7 linked regions of the Homo sapiens genome follow. The protein of the gene in region 1 interacts with the protein of each later gene in a pairwise test. Each region holds a gene or a part of one and is shown in the gene's direction. Other genes may lie near its edges. The genes, in order: FOXD4L6, LRIF1, STEAP1B, NDRG1, STIP1, ITGB2 and ATXN3.

Region 1 (4,123 bases):
TCATTGAAGTCCCAAGTTTTATTACAGTAAAAGCACTTAATGTTGACATTTCTGAAAGAATGAAGAGGCTGGGCATGGCGGCTCACGCCGGTAATCCCAGCACTTTAGGAGGCTGAGGCAAGCGGATCATGAGGTCAGGACATCGAGACCATCCTGGCTAACACGGTGAAACCCCGTCTCTACTAAAAATATTAGCCAGGCGTGGTGGCGAGCGCCTGTAGTCCCATCTACTTGGGAGGCTGAGGCAGGAGAATGGCGTGAACCCAGGAGGCGGAGCTTGCAGTGAGCTGAGATCGCCCCACTGCACTCCAGCCTGGGCGACAGAGCGACTCCGTCTCAAAAAAAAAAAAAGAAAAAAAAAAAAAAGAATGAAGAGCCAGAGCCAGGCATAGTGGCACGCCTGTAGTCCCACCTACTCAGGAGGCTGAGGCGGGAGGATCACTTGAGCCCAGGAATTCAAAGCCAGCCTGCGCAACATAGACCCTGTCTCTAAAAATGAATTGGTTATAAAGGATGAAGAAAGGAAGGAGGAAAGGGAGAGAGAGAAGCCCTTATAGAGTGGGTGCATTTCTTGTATGTGGGGCCACTTTGTAAGAACAGGATTTTTCAAACTGGGCCCATACTGGTATGTGTGAAATCAATTTAGTTGGTTATGGCCATTTTTTTTTAAAAGGAAATATCAGTGATCACTATAGTGTAAGTATATTGTTTCGTGAAACCCATCTTAGTTATGTATTATGTCTGTATGTGTGAGATTGTGATATAAAATGTATTTCTGTGGTTAAATATTCAAAGAAATTGGAGAACCATTGCTACAAGGGGACAGAGGACTCCGTGTGAGCTCTCCTGCCTTCCCTGAGTAAACTTACACAATTTAGTGCTGGGACATTTGAGCCTTTTCTGAAAATTTGAGTCAGGGAGAGCATCTTGAGGAGGTGGGAAGGAAGGTAGAAGGAGCAAAGCAACACCCCCCTGAAGCCTGGGAATATTGTCAGAACCTTAAATATAATTCAGCTCACCATTCTGGGTAAGGGCAGACTCTACCAATGAAAATGGGTGATTACCAGCTGTGAAACACAAAAACATACTTTTACGGTTACACATTCCTTTACAAACAACCGTGTACATTTCAGCCTCCTGCCCCACCATTTCTTTTCTCCAGGCGGGAAGGCTGCATGTTGAGGTGGTCATAGAATGTTGAGTATCATACTTTCCTACCTCGCTTTTATTTGCGCGGGTTTAAATGCGCCTTAACAGAACCCGTGCAAAGGCTTGCCAACTGTCTGGCTGCACCGGATGAGTAGAGCATCTTCCTTGGTGGCAGGTGGGTGCGAGGAGGAGGGGGCTGGGCTTTTCTCCGGACGGGTGTTTGCCCAGAAGACCATCATCCCTGGACTACGTTAGGAGGAAGTGGCACCGCTCCGAGGTAGGGGAAGAAGGGTTATAAAGGGGGGAGTCCACCACACATGGTCTTGAAGAAGCTTTTATAAAAGGCAAAGGCATCTTTGCCGGACGTTGTTGCAAAGGAGTAGAAACAAGCAGACGAAAACATCCCAAAGGGTAACCACTAGCGTTCCTGCTTCTTGCAACATTCATCCCAGGCTTCCAGCTCAGCCCGCCCCAGGCTAGGTGATCGGTCGCCACATCCCCTGCGACTGAAGCACCTGCTCCTCCATGAACCTGCCAAGAGCTGAGCGCCTTCGCTCCACACCGCAGCGCAGCCTCCGGGACTCCGATGGGGAAGACGGTAAAATCGATGTCCTGGGAGAGGAGGAAGATGAAGACGAGGTGGAAGACGAGGAGGAGGCGGCGAGCCAGCAGTTCCTAGAGCAGTCGCTCCAGCCGGGGCTGCAGGTGGCCCGGTGGGGCGGGGTTGCGCTTCCCCGAGAGCACATCGAGGGCGGCGGCGGCCCGAGCGACCCCTCAGAGTTTGGCACCAAGTTCAGGGCACCGCCAAGGTCTGCGGCGGCCTCTGAAGATGCCCGGCAGCCGGCAAAGCCCCCCTACTCGTACATCGCGCTCATCACCATGGCCATCCTGCAAAACCCGCACAAGCGCCTCACGCTCAGCGGCATCTGCGCCTTCATTAGTGGCCGCTTCCCCTACTACCGCCGCAAGTTCCCCGCCTGGCAGAACAGCATCCGCCACAACCTCTCGCTGAACGACTGCTTCGTTAAGATCCCCCGCGAGCCGGGCCACCCAGGCAAGGGCAACTACTGGAGCCTGGACCCCGCCTCCCAAGACATGTTCGACAATGGCAGCTTTCTCCGGCGTAGGAAGCGTTTCAAGCGCCACCAACTGACCCCGGGAGCCCACCTGCCCCACCCCTTCCCTCTACCTGCTGCACACGCCGCCCTGCACAACCCCCACCCAGGCCCTCTGCTTGGGGCCCCTGCCCCGCCGCAGCCAGTCCCGGGGGCCTACCCCAACACCGCCCCCGGGAGACGCCCTTACGCTCTGCTGCACCCGCATCCTCTTCGCTACCTACTGCTCTCGGCCCCCGTCTATGCCGGGGCACCGAAGAAAGCAGAAGGCGCGGCCCTGGCGACCCCGGCACCCTTCCCGTGCTGCAGCCCTCACTTGGTCCTCAGCCTTGGGAGGAGGGCAAGGGTCTGGCGTCGCCACCGGGAGGCGGATGCATCTCTTTCAGCATTGAGAGTATTATGCAAGGGGTCAGGGGAGCGGGTACAGGGGCTGCGCAGAGTTTGTCCCCGACCGCGTGGAGCTACTGCCACCTGCTCCAGCGACCATCAAGCCTGTTGCATCCCCAGACCGCTGCCCCTTTGCTGCAAGTGTCCGCCGCCGCCGCTGCTCGGACAATTTTGCAGCAATAGCAGCAGCATCAGGAGGAGGACTGCGCCAACGGCTGCGCTCCCACCAAGGGCGCGGTGCTGGGCGGGCACCTGTCGGCCTCGTCGGCCCTGCTGAGGTATCAGGCAGTGGCAGAGGGCTCTAGGCTGACATCGCTGGCTGCCCCTTTGGGCGGAGAGGGGACCTCACCAGTTTTTTTAGTATCGCCCACGCCCAGTTCCCTGGCCAACTCCGCAGGGCCCTCCTAGAGCCAGGTGGGAGTGGGGAGCGACCCGCAGCTGCTCACTTCACCTTGCGCGGCCCATTCAGGGCGTGTGCATCTGAATCCCGCTGGAGAGCAAACACGAACTTCTGTTCGCTGCAAAATGGTTAGAAAGAAACAGCTGGATTACGTTCCTCTAAAAACCACCTGAACGTAACCTTCGCAGGGCGTCAAGTCATCTTTTCTTGCCTTCGGTTGTGGCTTCTATGGCTGTCCCGATTTGCGCATTTCCTGGGGTACTATGAACGTGAGTGGGGTATTTTGTTCTGGCATTAAAAGAAAAACAAGCAAGCAAACAAAAACACAGCCTCCGATGCCAAACATGTTCCCCCTTCTTCACTTCCTTGGAGCTGGAAGTATTATTCCTAAGTCTAGTGCAAAATGCTTCTACTCTCTGTGTCTTCCTGATAGGGATGTTTAATGTAAGTAGGATATTAATTTCAGAACATTGATTTCTTATCTGTGTGTCTGACGTGCCATCTTTAATGTTAAAATTAAGGTGTTAAAATTAAGCCTAGTTATATAGACGAAATAAAATGCTAAGTCACTACACTACATCGTTTATTTTCTATTACATCTCATTCTTCCCTTTCTAAATGGAACTTTTTAAAACCTACGTTACTTTCCCTCAAACAATTTATTTTCACAATTCATATTTATTATAGATAGCAGAAGTAATCCATTTTAATATGGCCTTTAAAAATTCCAAATATTTGAGGTTGAAAATGTCCTGGCTTTTAAAATAGGAAATTTACTATTTATGAGACTTCTAAAAGAAAAGAATAGGAGGGCATGTAAATATATTCTCCATTTATTTTTCATCACCCCTCAACAAGCTGGAAAACCATTTGAGATCAATTTGGAATGTAGTGGCCAACATGTACTCAGAGAAAATAAAAGGCTATAAATTATATATATATATATATATTTTAAGCACTAGAATTTTCAAAACTTATTTCTTAAAAAAAAAACAACTCTGAAAAGACTTTGCAACTAGAAAGGTTTAAGTGTTACTCGGCGTCAGGGGACGGAGTGGGGGGAAACCAGACA
Region 2 (3,500 bases), on another chromosome or scaffold:
CTCAGCTCACTGCAAGCTCCGCCGCCTCCTCACTCCATTGTCCTACCTCAGCCTCCTGAGTAGCTGGGACTACAGGCGCTTGCTACCACGCCCGGCTAATTTTTTTTTTTTTTTTTTTTTTGTATTTTTAGTAGAGATGGGGTTTCACTGTGTTAGCCAGGATGGTCTCGATCTCCTGACCTCGTGATCCACCTGCCTCGGCCTCCCAAAGTGCTGGGATTACAGGCGTGAGCCACCGCACCTGGCGAATTGTTGCAGTCTTTAAGGAAGAATGTCTTGAAGGAGAAAAACAGGGTCAAGAAATGTGGGATAGTTAAAGGAGAATGCTTAGAATGCAGAAAATGAGTAAGGGAGCATTAGGAAAGTCAAGAGAAACAGAGGTTGTACACAGTGGAAACTATGATAGGTAAGAGGATCAATATGGAGGGATAATTAGTTGCAACAGAGAGGTACCTAGGGAATGAAGATAAAGACAAATTTAACTGTGAGAACATATTTGGTAATCTTTGAGAATGAAGTTTTAGTAGAATAATAGGAAAGAAAATAGACTGCAGAAGAAAGTAGGCTTCAAGATAACTTTCTGGCATATCACTTAATTGCAGCTTGTTAACACCATCTACCAACTTCCTGTCACTGAACTTGGCGCTTAGTTCACCATCTAGCTCACCATCTTCCCTCATGTGATTTCAATATCCGTATGGATAATCTCTTTGTCACCTCATCTTTATTACAGAGATCTTTTCCCCCAGTGATCTTATTCTCTGTTCTGTTGCACCTATCTACTTTTGTAGTACTTATTATTAGATGAAATTGCTGCATCTACGAAACTGTTTCACGCATCCTGTTTTCTAAATGCCAGTTCCTGTATTTCTAGCTGAGTTGTTTAACTGTTCCTACTGTAACTGTTAACTTTATCTGGCCCTACAGACCAATAATCCCTTTATTTTATCCCTATACTTTAGCCTTTTATTCTCTCATTTTCTTCCTATCCAGTTTAGACTCTGTTTCATTTTAATAACTCTTATCAATACCTTAAATTCTTTTGCTCTTCTTTGATTTTTTTGTTGCACCTTCCTGATGCCACCCCAACCCTGGATGAACTCAGTATGCTTTCTCTTTATCTGTGCTTGGTGTGACAAGAAAAATCTCGAGTACAGATTAGTACCACTATAAATTCATAACCACTACCTGTCTCCCCATGCCATCAACACATCCTGGCAACTCTAATATCTTCTGTGGTCAGTTTACTCCTTCACGAAGACTGTTCCAATCTTTGATTATCCTCAAATCTTTCCATATTTTTGCTCTTACTTTTAGCAGATGATGTCATGTGATTTTTCATAAAGAAAATAAAACCCATTAAATGAGAATTACCTCAGCCTCCTAACCCCAAAGTTGTATGCTTACCTGAAAATGCACATAATCTCTCCTCCAGTGTTGCAATGGAAGGAGATAGGTCTCCAGCTCTCTTTAAGGTTGAGTCCCTCCACCTGTCTCTCTGGTTTCCATTTCCTGCCTCCTTCTCATTGTGTATCCCTTTTGTTCCTTTATTACCAGTTTCTTCCCTGAACTGGCTCACTTGAGTATTTACATATGTTCTGGTTAATCTAACCTTAAACAAAGAAAAAGGAAAGATCCCTTCTTTGATTCCATTTATTCCTGTAGCTTCCTGCCAGTCGTTCTCTTCCCCTTGACAGTCAAAGTTTAAAAAGAGTTGTCTACTTGCTTCATACCCACTCCTCAGCAACTTCTTTCCCCTACCACACTGCTCTTATTAAAGCCATCAGTGATCTTCACAGCACTGTTTTCAGTGTACATTTTTAATCCTTATCCTATTTGGCATCTCAGAAACTTTTAGTATAATTGCCCAATTTTCTTAAAATCCTCTGTTCCTTTGGCTTAACATTGCATCAGAAGCAATGGTTTTCTTCCTACGACTCTAAGAATAATGGAAGGCCACTGCAATGTTTTAAGCAGGGAAAGATCAGTTTTAGTGTGCTGAGTAAATTGAAAGGTAGAAGATATGATTGGAGAAAAAAATCAGTCATGAAGCTATTGTAGTATTCTAAGCCAGAGATGATGTTTGCTTGGAGTAGAGTGGTAACAGTTGATTTGGAGAGAATTGAACAGATGAAAGGAAATTTAGGAGACAATATCAACAGGATTTTGTGATCACTGAATATAAGGAATAAGAAAGGAGGATTTATCTATTCTGACTTAAGGCACCTAAGGTAGATGAGATGCTATTTAGCAAAGAAAACCCTGCAGAAGATGGAACTTGGGGGGATTAGGATGGGCAGAGATCTGCTGGCCATGTTGAATTTTAGGAACGTTTGAGATTCTGAATGAAAATGTTAAAAGGGAATTTGGATGTATAAGCCTAAATTTCAAAGAAGCCACAGATAGAAATATTGAAATTGTTCATGCGTAAGTGATAATTTAATTGAAGTTATGCATTGAGAAGAAAGCATCTAACAAAAGAGTACAGAATAGGAAGAGAAGGATTCTTTCTAAGCTTTGGTAAACTCCCAACATTTGAAAGTTGATTCAAAAGTATGAGTTGGCAAAGAAGACTGAGGAGCCACTACAGAGGCTACTGTTACTCTTTTGATTTTTAAAAATCAATTAAAATATAAGAATGCACAGAAACAGAGTGGGCCAGATTAGGCCCAGAGGCTACAGCTTACTGACCCTTTTTTCCTGATGAGCCTGGTGCTTAACTTAAAACAGACACTTGGTAAATTTTTGTGTAATGACTTAATATTGAATATGTTCTTATCCAGGTCAAATGTGCTTTTCTTGTGGTGCAGGGAGGTAATAAAGGTAGATTTTTCCTCTTAAAACCCTGAAAGCAAGAATTCATCCTTTTCTTTGGGTTTATTCTCTTTAGAAGTTAACTTTTAATTTATTAAAAGTCAGTGTGTGACCAGCCTGGACAACATAGCAAAACTTTGCCTCTATAAAAAATACAAAAATTAGCCGGGTTTGGTGGCGTGCATCTGTGGTCTCAGCTACTTGAGAAGCTGAGGTAGAAGGATAGCTTGAGCCCAGGAGGTGGAGATTGCAGTGAGCCAAGATTGTACACCTACACTCCAGTCTGGATGACAGAGCCGGGCCCTGTCTCAACAGCAACAATAACAAAATGTCAATGTAATATTTTGACCCACTCTCACGTGTCCAAAAGACTTTTAAATTTTTGTAAGGATATAATAATGTTATTCGGGCTGCAGAAAGGTAAACCAAATTTCTACGGATACATAGAATTTTGGGTATTGATTTTTATTAATACCTGAGAGTTTTAAAAACATACCTTTATGCTTTTGAGAATCCTAATTATTATCGTTATTATTTGCCCTTGAACTTTTGTATTTATTTGATCTTAGTTATCTAAGACCATGCTAGGTCTATGGTATATGGATGCTGCACTCATATTGGTAGAATATAATATGAGAGACAGTCTATAGACAAACATATTAATATATGATGACAATCTATGATAT
Region 3 (4,166 bases), on another chromosome or scaffold:
TGTCAGTCCACGGTAATTTAATCTTCAAAGGGCTTTAAACTAATCCATGGAAAGTCAGTGACTACAGAAAATGCTTATATTAAAACATGAACAGTCTTCGGTGCCCTAGCTGTGAATAAAAAACAATCATGGAAAATGTGGTTGCGCGTTTATTTTCCTTTGTGTTTTCTACTCAGCTTAGTCCTGAGAATGTTGTATACCAAATCCCCAGAATTTTGCAATTCATGTCTCAGACCCTATCTCGAGGCTGGTTCCAACGGAGAGAAGTAAATCCCCTGCTCAAGTTGTCTTTTTCTAAAACCTTGGAATATTAACAGTTAACTTTACTTTAGGTTTGGAATACTTCATTGAGCTAGGATATGGGAAGCTGCACTTAAAAGCTGAGGCAAGGAAGGGAGGGACGGAGTAAACATGGGGTTTAAGGGTTTTTTTTTTCGGCTGGGGAGCAGGGTTTGTGCGATTAAAGGTACACAATTTGAACAATTCAGGGAGCAAGTCACTCTCAGAAATTCAGCTTCGGATTCCTCAAACTGTCAATCACAGCCACTTCAGGACCGGCTGTTAGGTTTTAAATAAGGTGGCTGGGCGCGGTGGCTCACGCCTGTAATCTCAGCACTTTGGGAGGCCGAGGCGGGTGGATCACGAGGTCAGGAGTTCAGGACCAGCCTGGCCAAGATGGTGAAACCCCCGTCTCTACTAAAAATACAAAAATTAGCCGGGCACAGTGGCAGGCGCCTGTAATCCCAGCTACTCGGGAGGCTGAGGCAGGAGAATCGCTTGAACCCGGGGCCGGAGGTTGCAGTTAGCCAAGATCGCGCCACCGCACTCCAGCCTGGGCAACAGACTGAGACTCCGTCTCAAAAAAAAATAAAATAAAATAAAAATAAATAAGCTAACGTGTGGGAGGGTTTGTAAGCTCTAAACGGTCTATCTCAAAGTGTGATCTGGGAATGCTTCCATATCTCATGGGAACTTGTTAGAAATGAGAATCTCAGACCTCATCCCAGACATACTGAACCGGAAACTGTGGGTGGACAGCCCAACAATCGGTGTTTTAATATGCCCCCGGGTAATCTTATACACGCTGAAGTCTGAGAACCACTGCTCTAGAGAAATGCACAAACGTTCCTTAGTGGAGATTAAACAAAAGGCGAGGGGTTGGAGGGCGCGAAACGGACCTCAAGGGCAGGGCAGACGGCATTTGAGAGGAAACTGGGAGAGGCCGGAGTGCGACTTGGGGAGTCTTAGCCTCCAAGGACGTTCCCGAACCCTGCGGACGCGGGGCGCCAGCAGGTGGCGCTGGACGCGCAACTGACAAGGAGGCGGGGCCTGCAGCAGGCTTGGAGGCTTCGCGCTCTGGAGGCTCAGGCGCCGCGTGGGGCCGGCACCTCCCGGCAGCAGCGGCAGCTGAGACTCACGGTCAAGCTACGGCGAGGAGTGGGTGAGTCCCTTGAATCGTTCTCACTGGCCGTTTGCTCCTCGAGTCCGCCTGCGTGTCCCTGCAAGGCTGGGCGCCCGCTCCCAGTCTTGGGAGGGGTGTAGCGGGTCGCAAGCCTTCTCGTGACCTGGACGGCGGCCCTCCTGGGCGAGCGGTGCTCAATTCTTCGCTTATGCGCGGCTCTGGGGCGCCCTGTCTTCCAGCCCAGCTGGGTTGTGGCCGGGCCGGGGGCTGGGGGGAGCCAGGGACTCAGAGGAAGCCTTTTCGCTAGGGGCTTAAGGTTGTGGTAGATTATTAAGTTTGTGCTCAGGTTGGATTTTGATGGCAAGTTTTTTAACGTGGCAAAGTCGCCAGAGTTTGCTGTGCATTGACGAATGACTGGTGCACAGTACTTAAAATCGTGCTACTTCTCGTCTTCGGGTTTCCTGGTAACAGAGGTTTTCATTTTCAGTCCTTAGAACACTGGCCCTACTCTTTCAGGATCTGGGTGGGGTTCAGGTTCCCTCCAAAATAGTCAATCAAGGCTTTAAATATGTAATTCTGGTCAAATCCACTGGAAGGAGTTTGTAGACATAAATTTTTTGTACACTTCCAAATTTCTTACTTTGTTACTTTTGTAAAATACATTTCCCTCCACATCCTGACGTGTAATAAAAGGTTATTCATTTAACATGAATGTTAAGCACAGAGGGAAAGCAATGCTTAAAAAGAAAAACAGCACAGTGAAAAAAAAACCCAAAAAACTCGACTTCACTTAGTTAAATGTAAAACAAGTGTGCACTTGAAAGTATAAAAGGTTGGAAATGCAGTGCAACCCACAATGTATTCCAGGCATTGGGTTTCTTCATATTCTCAACTGCGGGACATAAACATGAGTCAGTTGGGCTGTGCCAACATTTAGGAACACCAGGGCAGCCATCTTGGTACAGCAAAACAGCAGTCGCATTAGAAATGTGCTCCACTTTTTTAAAAGCGGGTGAAAGAGAACTTTGGGTCGAATTCTGGGGTTCCTAACATTTTAACACTAGGTTGTTTTCTGTTATTTTTCTTTTTATGAAAAGATTTTACTGTAGAACTTAAATTACATTTTGGTTAATGTCTGATGAAAACCAACAAATTTATTTGACTCATAGTTTATTTTCCTGGCTTATGGGCATAGAGTTGAGTGTGGGCCACACAGTCAACAAGCTTCCTCACTGTCATGGGCTTTTCCTTGGCTTCGCTCTTGAGTGTGGTCTCCTTACCATGCAGACAAATGGCTGGGTAACTCTCCAGGGCCACTCTGGTTTTCCACCCAGACTCTTTGTAGTGGCAATCAGTCAGCAAACACTGCCAACCTGCTAGCTACCCCAGGACTGGGTCTAGAAGACAGCGCTGAGCCTTTTCCTCTACTTCCCTTCCCATGCCACCATCTGCCTATAAAACTTTATCCTCTTCTAGGATACATCGCTCTACCATGCAGTTGAAATGCCTGCCTTCTCTCCTAGACCTCAAGGTTTTTCAGAGCAGAGGCTTTATCTCATTTAACTTTGCATTCCTCCTGCCTTACATTGTTGTTCACAATATAGTTACTGAATTCATACTGAATAAATGTGGGTGGATTTGTTAGCATCCTTACCATCCTGCACCTCTCAAAGTTAAAAGATCTTCTAAACATAGTGGATTATTTCTTACATTTGATTATAGTAGGTGACACTTCCATTCCTAGCACCTCCCTCCCCCACCCCACAAACTATTAAGTTGGTGATATGGTTTGGAGCTGTGTCTCCCCCTCAGATCTCATGTTGAAATGTAACCCCCAGTGCGGGAGCTGGGGTCTGGTGGGAGGTGATCGGACCATGGGAGCAGTTTCTCATGGTTTAACACCATCCCCCCTTGGTGCTGTTGTCACGTTAGTGCAGGGGTCCCCAACCCCCTGGCCGCAGACTGGTATCAGTCAGTGTCCTGTTAGGAACTGGGCTGCACAGCAGGAGGGGAGTGGCAGGCCAGCGAGCATTACTGCCTGAGCTCCACCTCCTGTCAGATGAACGGTGGCATTAGATTCTCCTAAGTACATGAACCCTATTGCAAACTGCACATGCAAGGGACCTAGGTTGTGTGCTCCTTATGAGAATCTAACTATTGCCTGATGATCTGAGGTGGAACAGTTTCACCTCAAAACCCTATCCCCCTTCCCCTACTTGGAAAAATTGTCTTCCACGAAACCAGTCCCTGGTGCCAAAAAGGTTGGGGACCACTGCAATAATGTAAGACGCCTGCTCCCACTTCACCTTCCACCATGACTATAAGCCCTCTGAGGCCTCCCCAGAAGCAGATGTTGCCATGCTTCCTTTACAGCCTATGGAACCATGAGCCAATTAAATCTCCTTTCTTTATAATAATTACCCAGTCTCAGGTATTTCTTTATAGCAGTGCGAGAACAGCCTAATACAGTTGGTTAAGTCACCAAATGACTTGGAATAATGCTGTTAAGGAGATAGAGTGTCATTTCCTCCAGAGCAGGCATGAGTGTCATTTCTATTTTTCCTCTTTAATGTTGGTCACAGAGTTGGGTTCATAAATACTTGATGATTGGCATATGCTTTACTCAGAATTCTTTTACATGCCAGTGGTGAACACCCAAATCACACTAACTTAAACCAAAAAAAAAGGGAATGTGTTGACTGTCTAACTGAAAAATTCAGGATCTAGTTTCAGGGACTCTAAATACTGAAATATGCCACCAGGA
Region 4 (3,500 bases), on another chromosome or scaffold:
GGCTTCTCTGTGTCATCCCCAGGTACATGTACCCCTCCATGGATCAGCTGGCTGAAATGCTTCCTGGAGTCCTTCAACAGTTTGGGTAAGAGCGAAGGATCAGCTCCTTCTCTGTCTGCAGAGAAGCCTGGTTTCTAGCATCTTCCTGCCCCTTGGCTTTGATCTGGACTGACCACTAAAATTAAGGTTGCAATTTAGAGATGAGGCAAGAAATTAGCTCGTCACTCTGTGAACACTGTTCTTCACACAGTCTCTGAGCTCTAGTCTGTCTCCTCTAACTTCAGTTTTCCTCTTGCGTGAATGTTATATTGCATGATGGCAGCTGCCCCACCCATTTGCTCTTGCCTCCTGTTCTTCCATTCCCTTCTCTTTCCCATGGAATGTTCTGGAATGGAGTTGCCTGAGTCCTTAGCTTTTCTCTCCACACCCTCATTTTTCCAGTGTTCCTCTCTGTCTTGAGCTCTTCAAAGAATGATAACTTCATGGTTCTTGCTCAATTTGTTTTCATTCCAAGTTTTAGAATCCAAAATAAAGCTTAAGAGTGGGAAGAAATGATGCCGTAACGGGCCTTCCCGTAAATGTCAGACGGTCTCTCAGAGCCTGGGTGGCGGCCAGGAGGGAAGTGAGGAGAAGGGGCGCGGCTCTCCAAGGTCGAGGTCTCTGTCCAGTCCTAAAGCATGGTGACCTCAGAGCTGTGCAGGCAGTTACGGCAGCATGCTCCCGCATTGCCTAGCCAGGCGGTCACCCTCAGGAAGTTCTAAGTGGGTCCTTGGAGGCTCCCGTCACTCTGTCCTTGTGTGACATGCATTTGTATTTTTGCTTCCAGGCTGAAAAGCATTATTGGCATGGGAACAGGAGCAGGCGCCTACATCCTAACTCGATTTGCTGTGAGTGCTTTGGCATTTTTTGAAAATCGCATTTTAAATAACATTTTAAGATGAAGGAAGACATTGGAAAAGCATCAAAAACCCAAAAGGGAAAAAGAAATGACCCGTATTCTCCACAGTTGTGTGTGTGTGTGTGTGTGGTGCATGGGTACTCGTATATATATATACTCACAGCCTTTTCTCTTCCTCCACTCAAGGATGATACTGGACACATTCCTTTGTCATGGGCTTTGTCCGCTTAGCCATCTAGTGAGGACGCTCCTCACTCACTGAGTACTCTGCTATGACACTGCTTTGTAACAGCTGTACAGGTTTTTGTAGTCAGGGCACTCCTGGGTCATAACTGATTCTAAACTAGAATCAGACACGGGAAGTTTTCATGACAGTTGTCATTGTTATTTCTCTGGGCTCAGGTCAAGAGCCACTGTTCCTTTGTATCCTCACCGAGCAATTGTGTAAGAATGCAACAATACTCATTTTGTACATCCATTGGTATTTTGACTACCTATTATTTGCTGGGCTTTGCTGGAGGTTGGGAATACTGACATGATTCTACAACATCCATCTTACAAAAAAAAGAAAGGAATGCTGACATGAATACAAAATGGTCTGGCCATATAGGCTCTCAGCAAATTAAAAATGGTCTCAACTGTACCCCAGGTGTACATATCTATATCTGTATGTATCTGCATCACATAATGACATTTTGGTCAATGACAGACTGCACATTTGACAGTGGTTCCATAAGATTATAATGGTTCATTTTTACTGTACCATTTTTATGTTTAGATTTGCTTAGATACATCAATACTTAGCATTGTGTTGCAATTCCCTGCAGTATTGGGTAGCGTCATATGCTGTACAGGTTTGTACAGCAAACCTAGGAGCAAAGGGCTGTTCTATACAGCCTTGGTGAGTTGTAGACTATACTGTCTAGGTGTGTGTAAGTATACTCTGAGATCTTCACACAATGACAAAATCTCCTAATGATGAATTTTCTCAGAAAGTATCCCTGTTATTCAGCGATGCATAACTCTGTCTCTCTCTCTGTGTGTGTGTGTGTGTGTGTGTGTGTGTGTGTGTATGCATGTGTTTATCCTGGAAGTAAGTAATACAGTTGTTACTGCCACAACTAGAGAGCATTTGTGCTGTGCGCCTTGTTTGATTGATGAGGTCGATGGTGTGTTACACCCATTTGATAGCTGGAGAAGCTGAGCCTCCGTGGGTTGAAGTGACTTGCCCAAGGCAGGCCTGCAAAGCAGCGGGCTTCCTACTTCTCCTGCACTTCCTCTTTCTCCTTCCCACTCTCTCTAGGACCCGATACCGTGTCTGCTGTGCTGGAACCTCAGTTTTGCATGGGGTGGGGCCGGGGAGCAGCAGCCTGCTCTGCTGCCCACACTGCCTTTTTCTGGGTACTTCTCTCAAGCTTTGGTTTGCCTTGGAAAGTTCCTAGTGTTTCAGATTGCTGGGATGTCTGTCTCACTTTGTGTCTTGAATTGCAGCTAAACAACCCTGAGATGGTGGAGGGCCTTGTCCTTATCAACGTGAACCCTTGTGCGGAAGGCTGGATGGACTGGGCCGCCTCCAAGGTGAGGTGGGGGCCTGTCAGGCCGGCGGGATCCCTGCAAGAAGAGGGACAGGTGCACACAGCCTCTGCCTGGGGGATCCCTGGAGCTACGAGCTCTCTCTTTACCCACTCCTCCACTACCCTCTACTGCCCACTCCAGTTCCCTCTGCTTTACTTAGAACAGTACACATGACCTCAGCCGTTTGCCATTCAGAAGACTTAAATACCACCAAGCTGTCTAAGCCAGGGAAAGCACTGGGACACAGGTCCCTGAGGCAGCTTGGAGAAGCATTGCTTGGATTAATGAGTATTAGCTGGGTACATAACTTGTGCCAGGCTTTGGTCAAGATGCTGAGCATCTTGAAGAACAAGACTTCTTGAGATGAACAAGACAAAAGCCTCTAGGAATGAATCTTAGGAATCCATTCACATATTATTAAAGAAAAATAAATATGTATTTAGTACGGACTGTGCCACAGAATTTTACGATAATAATTAGCTAACGTAGATTGAGAGTTTACCATGTGCTAGTTTCATTCTACGTTGCTGTGTGTGCATGATCTCAGTTAATCTTCATAGTAACTCTAGGAGGTGAGAATTTTTATCACCGTTTCAGAGGTAAGGACTCGGTGTGGCTAAGGGGATTGTCCAGGGTCACATAAAGCTAGGCAGTAGAACGGGGACTGGATGCAGCTTGCTTTGACTTTGTGGTTCGTGGACCTGACCACCCGTGCCCCTGGGGCTCCTGTCCAGGGTGGGAGACAGGCAGGCCTGGCAAGCAGGGTAGGCTGCCTGGAGGAGAAGGGACCTGTGCTGTCTTGGGAAGCTCTGTCCTGGCTGGTGTCCTAAGGTTCCTTGTTTATCTTTTAAAAATTATCATTGTGGTGTTTTTGTTTTTGTTTTTTTCCCTGTAAAGGCCTCAGTGTTGGCCAAGGAGAGGGGGAGGTCATTCCAGTTGAAATAGGACAGAGTCTTTCAAGCTGAGGTGATCGCAGCTTCTCATTCTGCAAGTGCATTTTTGCCCAATTTTGGGTGGCTGCCAGGGA
Region 5 (3,500 bases), on another chromosome or scaffold:
CCCACCTTCTTCCTGTGAGGGGTGACTAGGGCTGTGCTCTGTTTGTCATTTGGATGCTTTGGAAATCTGTGGCAAATGAATTGACTTTTCCATGGAAGGAGCATGTGGCACATTCTGGAGTGGCTTCGTGAGCTCCATGTGGAGACCGGAAGAGTGGCAGAGCCCTCGTTCGTCACATGGGGGCCAGCGTGGAGTGCAGCCTGGGCTCTTTGCCCCTGCTTATTTTTTCTTTGCTGGCTCCTTAGGGAAGGTGTGAGAAATTAAATAAATGAACCGGTTTTCTCTCTTCTGATCTGTAAAGTCACCTATTTATTTGTTGGTAACTACATGAAAGAATGAGTGTTGTCTTTAAAGCTTGGGATTAAATGGGCACATCATAGAGAAGCTGTGTGTTCCTTTCCCCTCAGGTCAATGAGCTGAAGGAGAAAGGCAACAAGGCCCTGAGCGTGGGTAACATCGATGATGCCTTACAGTGCTACTCCGAAGCTATTAAGCTGGATCCCCACAACCACGTGCTGTACAGCAACCGTTCTGCTGCCTATGCCAAGAAAGGAGACTACCAGAAGGCTTATGAGGATGGCTGCAAGACTGTCGACCTAAAGCCTGACTGGGGCAAGGTCAGCTGTGGGCAGTGGAGGGAGAGAGGCCCTTCAGACCCTTCCAGAAATGCCTTTTGGTGGCCTGAGGTTTACCTGTCCTGATACACTGATAGTTACCTACCCACCTCCCTGTTTGAGTATCCTCCTCAGAAATGGCATTTTTCATCAAATCTAAGGTAGCCATTAGTTGTAATACAGGCTTTATTTTTGGTACTAAGAAGGAAGAGGCCAGGGCTGGGCGCGGTGACGCACGCCTGTGATCCCAACACTTTGGGAGGCTGAGGTGGGCGGATCACTTGAGGTCAGGAGTTCAAGACCAGCCTGGCCAACATGGTGAAACCCTGTCTGTACTAAAAATGCAAAAAAATTTAGCCAGGCATGGTGGCATGTGCTTGTAGTCCCATCTACTCAGGAGACTAAGGCAGGAGGATCACCTGAGCCTGGCAAGCGGAGGTTGCAGTGAGCTGAAATCGTGCCACTGCATCCAGCCCAGGTGACACGGCAAGACCCTGTCTCAAAAAAAAAGGAAGAGGCCCGGTACAGTGGCTCACGCCTATAATCCCAGCACTTTGGGAGGTTGAGGCAGGAGGATTACTGGAGCCCAAAGGTTTGGGACCAGCCTGGGTAACATAAGGAGTCCCTGTCTTTACCAAAAAAATAAGGGAAAAAGTGTTGCCAAAGAAACTGACCACAGTCGATCAGAGGTGAACAAGGCGGGGCGGATGTGCCTCTGCTATTTGGATGGATCCTTACAGTAGCAGCCTTGGCCTCGTAGCCTACTCCTCTCCTTTTTTTCTCTTTGGCCTTCATGTGAATACTCATTTTTCCCCCATAAAAGTAGAATTGTTCTTTTTTGAGTTCGTCTTCTAGATTTACCTCTGGGTGTTCTCTATTTTGTGTCTGTCTTTGGTGGTTTAAGGGCTATTCACGAAAAGCAGCAGCTCTAGAGTTCTTAAACCGCTTTGAAGAAGCCAAGCGAACCTATGAGGAGGGCTTAAAACACGAGGCAAATAACCCTCAACTGAAAGAGGGTTTACAGAATATGGAGGCCAGGTTGGCAGGTAGGTACCACGCACAGTTTTCTTTCTTATTATTAATGTGATTAATTTTGAGTCTTCACCCCTGAGAAATGTCAGTCTGGTAGGGTATGGGACACAGTAATTCTAGTGAACTCATTTCATAGTGATGTGCTTTCCTTTATTTGGACAGAGAGAAAATTCATGAACCCTTTCAACATGCCTAATCTGTATCAGAAGTTGGAGAGTGATCCCAGGACAAGGACACTACTCAGTGATCCTACCTACCGGGAGCTGATAGAGCAGCTACGAAACAAGCCTTCTGACCTGGGCACGTAAGTGGACGCCGCTCACTGAGGTTCTGGAAATCGGGGAATGTTATGCTTTCTTCCTGTAACCTCACAGCAGAGGGTTCCCTGGTCTAAACTGCAGAGTTTTTGCCTTTGCTTATTCTCTGCAGAGCAGTAGGTGGTGGTCGTTTATTTGTAATTATAGAAAGGGTCAGGGGAGCATATTTCACAGTAATCTAGAATGTTCTTTGTCATCTGTATACACCTCTCTCCTGCTCTTCTAGAACTCTGATCTAGCGTCAACCCCATCCTTTCCATCTACTTAGGCCCTACTTTCTCTGTTGGTATATCAGAGTGGAAACAGGGTTGAAGTTCATGTGTAAAGATGTGTCTAAATCTTGTACTGGTATTCATCTCTATCAATCCTCTGGCTCCTGAGATCAGCTACGGAAGTATACCTAAAACAACTCATTCCTCTGTGTATCTGCTAACCTTGAGGAATAAACTTGACCTCTGTGACTTCATTTTATTTTATTTTATTTTATTTTATTTTTTCAAGATGGAGTCTCGCTCTGTCCCCTAGGCTGGAGTGCAGTGGTGTGATCTCAGTTCGCTGCAACTTCCACCTCCTGGGTTCAAGCGATTCTCCTGCCTCAGCCTCCTGAGTAGCTGGGATTACAGGTGTACGCCACCACGCCCAGCTAATTTTTGTATGTTTAGTAGTAGCGGTGGGTTTCACCATGTTGGCTAGGCTGGTCTCAAACTCCTGACCTCAAGTGGTCTGCCCGCCTCGGCCTCCCAAAGTGCTGGGATTACAGGTGTGAGCCACCGTGCTCCGCTATCTGTGACTTCATTTTATTTGTTTTTGTTGACTCTATTTTAGATAGTGTTTTGACGGTTTGAGTATTTCTCAATTGTAACTCATGAGTGGTGCAAAATCTAGCCATCTTTTGATGGGTGAGGAGCTTCTAAACACAAGAATCTGACTTTAGTAGTAAGTGGGAGTTAAAAGACTAATTGTGGGGAGGAGTAATTACAATTTTTCTTTATTTTTTTAAATCAATACTAGGAAACTACAAGATCCCCGGATCATGACCACTCTCAGCGTCCTCCTTGGGGTCGATCTGGGCAGTATGGATGAGGAGGAAGAGATTGCAACACCTCCACCACCACCCCCTCCCAAAAAGGAGACCAAGCCAGAGCCAATGGAAGAAGATCTTCCAGAGAATAAGAAGCAGGTCTTGTTTTTTTCTCTCCTCACTGTCACCTATCTATAAACAACTAGAAATCTTTATGTTGAATGGGGACATCTGTTGACCTTGATTGACCATGATTATTATGGTTTTTTTAGAGACGGAGTCTTGCTGTGTTTCCCAGGTTGGTCTTGAACTTCTGGCCTCAAGCGATGCTCCTGCTTCAGCTAGGATTACAGTCACGAGCCACTGTGCCCACCTAAAACTATTTTGAGTGCTTTAGTATGCGCTAAGCTTATGGCTATTATTCATTAGAATGGCCAGCATGTTAAAAAATCAGCTTCAGGCCAGGCACGGTGGCTCATGCCTATAATCCCAGCACTTTTGGAGGCCAAGGTGGGC
Region 6 (3,500 bases), on another chromosome or scaffold:
GGAAGCTGGGCGCCATCCTGACCCCCAACGACGGCCGCTGTCACCTGGAGGACAACTTGTACAAGAGGAGCAACGAATTCGTAAGTCCCCACCCCAGGCACCCAGGCACCGCCTGGCAGGACACCACTGACGGAGGAGACAAGGGTGGGGTCTCCACCTGACAGAGCCTCCTTCTGACCCAAGGAGCAGATTCCTGAGGAAACTTCTGGAAGCCCCAAGTGGCAGCGTGGGGTCTCCCCGGACTGGCCTCAGGCCAGGGGAGGGTAGGGTTGGTGGGGGCAGCCAGGCTGAGGCCCGGCCTCGCCCTTGTGGGACACCCAGGCTCTGTTGGTCTCCAGCCCCACTGCCCCCCTACCTGGGCTGACAGCTGCTGTGGAGGTATAGTAACCGCCCCCAGGCTACGGCTGCACCCTGCCGTCCCCGCCTCTGGCCAGGGTCCCATCCCCAAGCATCCGCCTCCTCCCCCTCCCGGCCTCCACTGTACGTTCCCTGCTGCCCCTGAGTCCGCCTCCTCCAGTGTGGCCCCTCCCTGCCCCCATTGCCTGAGCTGGGTGAGCGGCTGCGGGGACCATGAGGAACATGCAGGGAGGGACAGAGGCGAGAAGGAGCCCAGGATGCACGGGTTAGGATGAGCCTCTCTGCGGAGGCATCTCAATGGCTCAGAGGGGCCAGGACTTCTGGCTGGGATCAGCCGTGGGCCGAGAGGCAACCACTGGTCACAAGGGGCTTGTCCTCGCTGGCCGTAGTGCGACGCTCTTGCAGCCTGACGTTGTAGGCTCTGGGGGCCGCAAAGGACTTTAGAGATACAAGACTCAGGTCCTCCGCCGGGAGCCACAGACGGGAGGGACGGCCCTCGGGTCCCGGAACTCGGGTAGGGAGAGCCGCACCTGACACTCATGGCCTCTACCGAAACTGAGTGTCCCTCAGTGCGAAAGCAGGTCCACCGTGTGGGGAAGGCTGGGATTCTGCCCCCGTGGACATCCCCAGTCCCACGGTGAGACGCCTCAAATGCTGCTCATGCCTGGACTCTGAAAGCCCGAGTCTATGCACACATTGCCCAGAGGGCGTGGCAGCTCTCTGCCCTGCACTCCTGCGTGGCAGCCTCTGCCTCTCCAGCCTTCCCCAGAGAGGGTTCGAAGCACGGGCAGGGCTGACGCTGAGCGGGGCAGACAGGGGCGGGTACCTGGAAGCCTTGTCCTGGACTCGGGGCCAACTGAGCAGGACCTCCTCTCTCCAGGACTACCCATCGGTGGGCCAGCTGGCGCACAAGCTGGCTGAAAACAACATCCAGCCCATCTTCGCGGTGACCAGTAGGATGGTGAAGACCTACGAGGTGAGTGCTGTTGGGTCCCGAGCATCCATTGGGTGGGGGCATGTTTCAGCCACAGGCCAGACCCAGCGCCACTGCAGGTCTGAGCGCCACCTCTGCATGCTGGGCACGTGAGCAACCAGCCGGCCCAGGTCCTGGATCCCCCTAGGTGAGGAGCCCGAGGCTTCCCGTCGGGGACAGGACGCCTGCGTGTCGATAGGAGGAGGAATTCCTCCCCGTCCCTGAAACTCAGCTGTGTTAACAGCATGTCTTGGCATTGGTGATATTTCTGTTTTTTCCTGGAATACAACACAATTCTTTATTTTATGGAAACACACTTATTTTATGCTCACATACATTTGAACATCAACACTCTCCGTGAAGATAAAATTACACAAAAACGTTCACAAGCTTGGAGTGCGGAGTGGGATGAATTTCACGAAGGAAGCACAGCTGATAACCAGCCTCTGCTCCTAGAAAAAGAGGCCCCCAGTGAAACACGTTCATCCTGCATTTCCGCTGCTAGTGCCATGTGTTCAGCCTGAGCAGGTCAGTGCGTCAAGACGCTCAGGTGCTGTTGGGGTTCCCAAGACCTTTCTCAGGATCAGTGATTTGCCGGAAGGACTTGCAGAGCTCAGGAACCAGTAAACTCACAGTTACAGTTTATTGCAGAGCCGACCCTCCTGGGTGCCAGCCGCTGCCCGAGGTGGGAGGATACAGACAAAAGTCAGCAAAGGTCAAAGGTGCACAGGAGAGAAACCAGGCACCAGCTCCCAGTGTCCCCTCCCTGCAGGGGTGTGGGCGGCGCTCCATCCTCCCAGCGATGATGTGTGGCCTCATGCACAGAACATGGTCCCCAAGGAGGCTCTTGAGCCTCGGTGTCTACTGGGGGTCAGTCACAGCGGCGCGGCTGACACCCCATGGCTGACCTCAGTCTCTAGCCCTCCAGAGGTCAAGCTGAAAACTGTCCAGGGCCCCACCCCAAATCACACTGTGGGACTATCCGGTGTGACCTGAGGCCCCAGGAACAATGACACCCCCATCGGGTAGGATGTACCAAGGGCTCAGAGGCTACCTCTCAGGAGCTCAGCCGGGGTCTACCACTCTTTGGCATGTGTGGGGTGTGGCCAGCCAGGCCTGCTGGGTGGAGCCCTGACTGTGTAACAGGGATTCGCTAGAAGGAAGGAAACACTGCACGCCCTCCTGAAAGGAGCCTCCGCCCATAGCAGCCTGCACAGTGTGTGGCCCTGAGGCCACAGGGACAGAAGGACTGAGCTGGAGGAAGGAGGTGGTTGTCATTGTACTTTACACAGCCACGTGCCCCGTTCTTCAGGGTGGAGCTGGAGGAACGAGATAGTTGTCATTGTACTTTACACAGCCACGTGCCCCGTTCTTCAGGGTGGACAGGGCCCTGGGTGGCTCACCTCACACCCAGCTCTGTTACTTACCACAGGACGCCCCAGGCCCTTCCTTACCCCGAGCCCTCAGTTTCCTCATCTGTGAAAGGGGTAGTGGTGCCCGGCGGGCAGTGCGTCGTGGGTACTGAGCTCACCCACTCAGGGAATTCACAGAGCAGCCGCCCTAAAGGGCCCGATTATCCTCATCCGGACAGTGACCGACCTGCTGGCCATTCCAGGGCCATCACCGCCATCTTCTTCAAAATGGCACGCAGGAAACCAGGGCCCCCTCTTCCCCCTGCCTGGGGCTCTGCCCAGCTGGGCAGCCTCACAGCCCCTGCCCTGCTGCTTAGGCTGAGGAGACATACTCGGGGTTTGGGGAAGGAAAGTGCCCGGGAGGGCCGCTGCTTTTGTAAAGTGAACATTTGCTGAACTACAGGGATCCATTGTCAGGCCCGTATCCCAGCTACAAGCTCAACCTCGTGGTGTGTTGGGGCCGACAGCGAGACCAGCGGTTCCTGCCATAGGTTCCCCGGGCTCTGGAGTGGGAGCAGGACCCTGCGGGAGACACGGGATGGGGGCAGGTGTCTGGGGGACCCTCCGAGTGGGCACCCAGAGCTGGTCAGGCTGCCGGGACAGTGGGTCAGCGCAGGGCAGGGCTGGGGCCGGACATCCACAGAGACCACCTGCTGGTCAGGATGTCACAGCCCTGTGTCCCATCTGTAGGTGGCCATGACGGTCCCCTCCTCACCAGCAGTAGCAGGTCCCAATCCTTTGCCATTTGTCATGGCAGC
Region 7 (3,977 bases), on another chromosome or scaffold:
CAGCCTGGGGGACAGAGAGAGGGCCGTCTCAAAAAAAAAAAAAAAAAAAGTACACCTTAATCTGGTTTCAAGGTGCAAGATCTGCACCTATCCTTCCATTTAAGTTTCATCAAACCGCTGCTACCTCCCCGTCTCCCACACAATTTATGGGACTTCTAAGTTCCCTCTAAAGGGTCCGAACACCTACACTGGTAACAAGCCACCTGGATTTGAATCCTGGCAAGACAACTTACTATCTGACCTTGGACATTGTGCTGTTCTTAACCTCTCCGTGCCTCGGTTTCCTCATGTGTATGAATAACATCAACACCTACATCAAAGTTTGCTGTATTAAATTTGATAATATATGCAAAGCATTTAGAAAAGTGCCTAGCTCATAGAAAGCCTTATGTAAATATTAACTATCATTTTTTTTCTTTTTTGGGGTGGTGGGGGAGGGGTTTCGCTTTTGTTGCCCAGGCTGGCGTGCAATGGCACGATCTCGGCTCACCACAACCTCGGCCTCCCGGGTTCAAGCGATTCTCCTGCCTCAGCCTCCCGAGTACCTGGGATTACAGGCATGCACCACCACGCCCGGGTAATTTTGTATTTTTAGTGGAGACGGGGTTTCTCCATGTTGGTCAGGCTGATCTCAAACTCCCGACCTCAGGTGATCCGCCCGCCTCGGCCTCCCAAAGTGCTGGGATTACAAGCGTGAAGCACCTCGCCCGGCCTAGCTATCATTTTTATACAAGTGCTGGGTTTTGGGAGAATGTAATGATGGCTTTTTTCTTACTAAACTTTCAGTGCAGGAGGAGGAGAAAGAAAGTAAATAGTTATATGAACACAGTAGAAAGTCAAAGTGGAAAACAAAAAGAACATAGAACCCAGGTGAGCGGTCCAGACCTCCCCCCAGAAACCTAAGAATCCATAGAAATGGGTGGGAAGCGGAGAAGATCCTCCAGACAGCAGGTGGCGATGTAGCATCCCCCAGAAGGCCCGCTAACAGAAGCTAGGAGGACGCGCTACCAAGGTCACGTGTCCCCGGCGTTCACTCGCTCTTCGCTTCACGACACTCGCATCCTCACGGGTGATTGGTCTGCGTGCGGCACGTGGGCGGGGTACCGGGGCGGGCCGGGGAGGGGCGGGGTGGGCGGAGGAGAGGGGCAGGGGGCGGAGCTGGAGGGGGTGGTTCGGCGTGGGGGCCGTTGGCTCCAGACAAATAAACATGGAGTCCATCTTCCACGAGAAAGTGAGTGTCCGCGTTCGGTGGGGAGCTGTCTGCCGCGCGGTGGCGGGCGTGGAGCGCGGCATCACCGCCTCTCGGAGGGCTGGGTGGGGCCCGAGTCGCCCCCATGCCGATCTCGCCCGGCGAGGGGCGACGCCGCAGCCTCCCGCCTCCTCGGCTCGAGGAGGGGAGCATCACCTACGCCCCTACTTCCCCCGCGGCCCCCGCCCTGGGAGCCGGGAGGGAGTATGGGCGGGGCCGGGGGCGTCTCGGGACACGGGAGTGGGGTGGCGCCCAGTGGGTTTGCTTCTGCCTTTCTCCGTCACTTTCCATCGCTTTTCGGAGGATTCCTTCACCCCTCCCCAATCCTTCCCTCTCCCTAGGGTCTAGCTAGAGTCATCTCTGGGACACCTCCCTCAACCCCTCCTACCCTAATCCTGGCAGAATTAACTTTTCCTCCTCCGGACTGCTCAATTCTATATTGGAGTCTTCCCTACACGTAGATCTTTGGGGTCTTGTTCGTGTCTTTCCCCTGCACTAGGTCCGCGAGCCTCCCGAGGGAGGAGACCTTGGCTCGCCCACTGTAGGGCCTGACATTTAGGAAGTGAAGTAGGAAACCCGGCGTGCCCCTAAACAGGGAAGTCGTCACAAGAGTTTTTATTACGGGATGTTTGGGTTTGGTTTCTTTTGGTACTCCCATCTTTCCGGAGCAGGCGGCCAGCTTTGTTTTTAGGTATTAGGAGTGGACTGGGATGATTTTGTTGTAGTCTGCCTAGCCTGCTGTCCCTTTAACTCTTCCGTGACCATGCACTTGAAGATACTGTTTGTGATATGTAAAGAAACTCCTCGTTTCTCTCATACTATTATCCAGCCATTTGTGTGTGAGTGAAGCCTTCCCCAGGACAGCTTTGGCACATGGTATCATGTTTCATAATAGTTTCGTGTTTGGAAAGAGTTGCTGGTAAGGCTGTTATTTAATAGGAGGAGCAAAGGGTTTTTGTTTTATTAAATACTTATAAATGATCATTTATCCCAGACATTTAAAATTCACACACACACAACAAATAAAGCAAAGACAAAAGAATACATTTACCAAATGTAAATCTGTAGCATAAATTTTTTTTAATTTTTATTTTAAAGATGGGGTCTCATTCTGTCACCCAGGCAGGTGTGCAATGGAGAGATCATGGCTCACTGCAGCCTTGATCTCCTAGGCACAAGCGATCCTCCCGCCTCTGCCTCCAGAGTAGCTGGGACTACAGGTGCATATCGCCAGGGCCAGGTAATGTTTTTGGGAGAGACGGGGTCTCGCTGTGTTGCCCAGGCTGGTCTCGAACTCCTGGACTCAGGTGATTCTCCCACCTCGGCCTCTCGAAGTGCTGTGATTACAGGCGTGAGCCACTGTGCCTGGAACAAATTGTTAAGTACAATGCTTTTCATTGTAGAAAACATCTCGGAAACTTTTGAAATAGGCTGATGTTCAGTGGGGGAGGAAGGACTCAGTCGTATAGTTGTCACTAATTTTTTGACTTGATTGACATGACTCGTAAATCATAGACAATAGAGATTTGGTTGCTTGGCTGAGTAGAGTGCGTGAAAAATACACACGTACTTTTTTTTTTTTTTTTTTGAGATGGAGTTTGGCTCTTGTCACCCAGGCTGGAGTGCAATGGCGCCATCATGGCTCACTGCAACCTCCGCCTCCCCGTTCAAGCGATTCTCCTGCCTCAGTCTCCCCAGTAGCTGAGATTACAGGCGCCCGCCACCACGCCCAGCTAATTTTTGTATTTTTAGTAGAGACAGGGTTTCACCATGTTGGCCAGGCTGGTCTCCAACTCCTGACAGGTGGTCCGCCCGCCTCGGCCTCCCAAAGTGCTGGGATTACAGGCGTGAGCCACCGCACCCGGCCATATTTTTGTTATTAATTTTCAAAGGCTTTGGTGTGGGACCACATTTCAACATGGAAGGCCTTAAACATGTTCCACACTACTTCCTGAGAATTAGACAAGATTTTTAACAATATTGTTACCTAGTTGGGACACATTTGTACTGACCCATGGGATGAAAAAAAGCTGAGTGCTAGCCTAGTGAAAATCTACTTACCCGAAAGAAATCCCTCTTAGTCTGGGTGCAGTGGCTCACACCAGTGCTTTGGGAGGCCCAGACGGGCGGATCATGAGGTCAGTAGTTTGAGACCAGCCTGGCCAACATGGTGAAACCCCGTCTCTACTAAAAATACAAAAAATTAGCCAGGTGTGGTGGCAGGCGCCTGTAATCCCAGGTACTCTGGAGGCTGAGGCAGGAGAATTGCTTGAACCCGAGAGGCAGAGGTTGCAGTGAGCCGAGACCGTGCCACTGCACTTCAGCCTGGGCAACAGAGCGAGACTCCGTCTCAAAAAAAAGAAAAGGAAAAAAGAGTCCCTCTTAATTATCAGCATGTGTATAGGCCTACAGATACTTCAGGAATACCTTTACCATTATCATCAACTTGTATCTACATAGCATGTGAAGATTCAACAATTTAGTTTTTTGGGCGTCCTCAAGAGTACGCACCTATAACCATATGGCCCAATTGTTAATCTCCTATACAGTCCATTCTGGGAATGTTTGGGCTTACTGTGCCATTTTTCCGTTCACTGCCTTCCCCTCTGCAATATACCTTTAACCCTTGCTAGGTCCTGGGTTTGGAGAGCCAGAGAACCAACTTTGGCCCTAAAGAAGCTGTGTAGGTAGCAATATCTGCCTACGAAGGGCCTTGCAACCATTTCCT

The links.
Region 2: the proteins of FOXD4L6 (region 1) and LRIF1 interact in binary tests that used the Homo sapiens proteins (3 or more experiments, as listed by UniProt).
Region 3: the proteins of FOXD4L6 (region 1) and STEAP1B interact in binary tests that used the Homo sapiens proteins (3 or more experiments, as listed by UniProt).
Region 4: the proteins of FOXD4L6 (region 1) and NDRG1 interact in binary tests that used the Homo sapiens proteins (3 or more experiments, as listed by UniProt).
Region 5: the proteins of FOXD4L6 (region 1) and STIP1 interact in binary tests that used the Homo sapiens proteins (3 or more experiments, as listed by UniProt).
Region 6: the proteins of FOXD4L6 (region 1) and ITGB2 interact in binary tests that used the Homo sapiens proteins (3 or more experiments, as listed by UniProt).
Region 7: the proteins of FOXD4L6 (region 1) and ATXN3 interact in binary tests that used the Homo sapiens proteins (3 or more experiments, as listed by UniProt).

The regions. Positions count from the first base shown.
Region 1 is NC_000009.12:41,125,935-41,130,057, reverse strand, and holds FOXD4L6 (forkhead box protein D4-like 6), read left to right. Parts: upstream 1-1,376; 5' UTR 1,377-1,674; coding exon 1,675-2,928; 3' UTR 2,929-3,623; downstream 3,624-4,123.
Region 2 is NC_000001.11:110,953,923-110,957,422, reverse strand, and holds part of LRIF1 (ligand-dependent nuclear receptor-interacting factor 1), read left to right. Parts: intron 1-3,500. UniProt on the Homo sapiens protein: Together with SMCHD1, involved in chromosome X inactivation in females by promoting the compaction of heterochromatin.
Region 3 is NC_000007.14:22,497,389-22,501,554, reverse strand, and holds the start of STEAP1B (STEAP family member 1B), read left to right. Parts: upstream 1-1,366; 5' UTR 1,367-1,441; intron 1,442-4,166.
Region 4 is NC_000008.11:133,255,753-133,259,252, reverse strand, and holds part of NDRG1 (protein NDRG1), read left to right. Parts: intron 1-22; coding exon 23-85; intron 86-826; coding exon 827-887; intron 888-2,389; coding exon 2,390-2,476; coding exon of another isoform or gene 2,477-2,527; intron 2,528-3,500. UniProt on the Homo sapiens protein: Stress-responsive protein involved in hormone responses, cell growth, and differentiation. Acts as a tumor suppressor in many cell types. Necessary but not sufficient for p53/TP53-mediated caspase activation and apoptosis.
Region 5 is NC_000011.10:64,192,671-64,196,170, forward strand, and holds part of STIP1 (stress-induced-phosphoprotein 1), read left to right. Parts: intron 1-407; coding exon 408-617; intron 618-1,518; coding exon 1,519-1,660; intron 1,661-1,808; coding exon 1,809-1,950; intron 1,951-2,974; coding exon 2,975-3,143; intron 3,144-3,500. UniProt on the Homo sapiens protein: Acts as a co-chaperone for HSP90AA1. Mediates the association of the molecular chaperones HSPA8/HSC70 and HSP90.
Region 6 is NC_000021.9:44,896,900-44,900,399, reverse strand, and holds part of ITGB2 (integrin beta-2 isoform 1 precursor), read left to right. Parts: coding exon 1-80; intron 81-1,237; coding exon 1,238-1,333; intron 1,334-3,500.
Region 7 is NC_000014.9:92,103,783-92,107,759, reverse strand, and holds the start of ATXN3 (ataxin-3 reference isoform), read left to right. Parts: upstream 1-1,177; 5' UTR 1,178-1,207; coding exon 1,208-1,231; intron 1,232-3,977. UniProt on the Homo sapiens protein: Deubiquitinating enzyme involved in protein homeostasis maintenance, transcription, cytoskeleton regulation, myogenesis and degradation of misfolded chaperone substrates.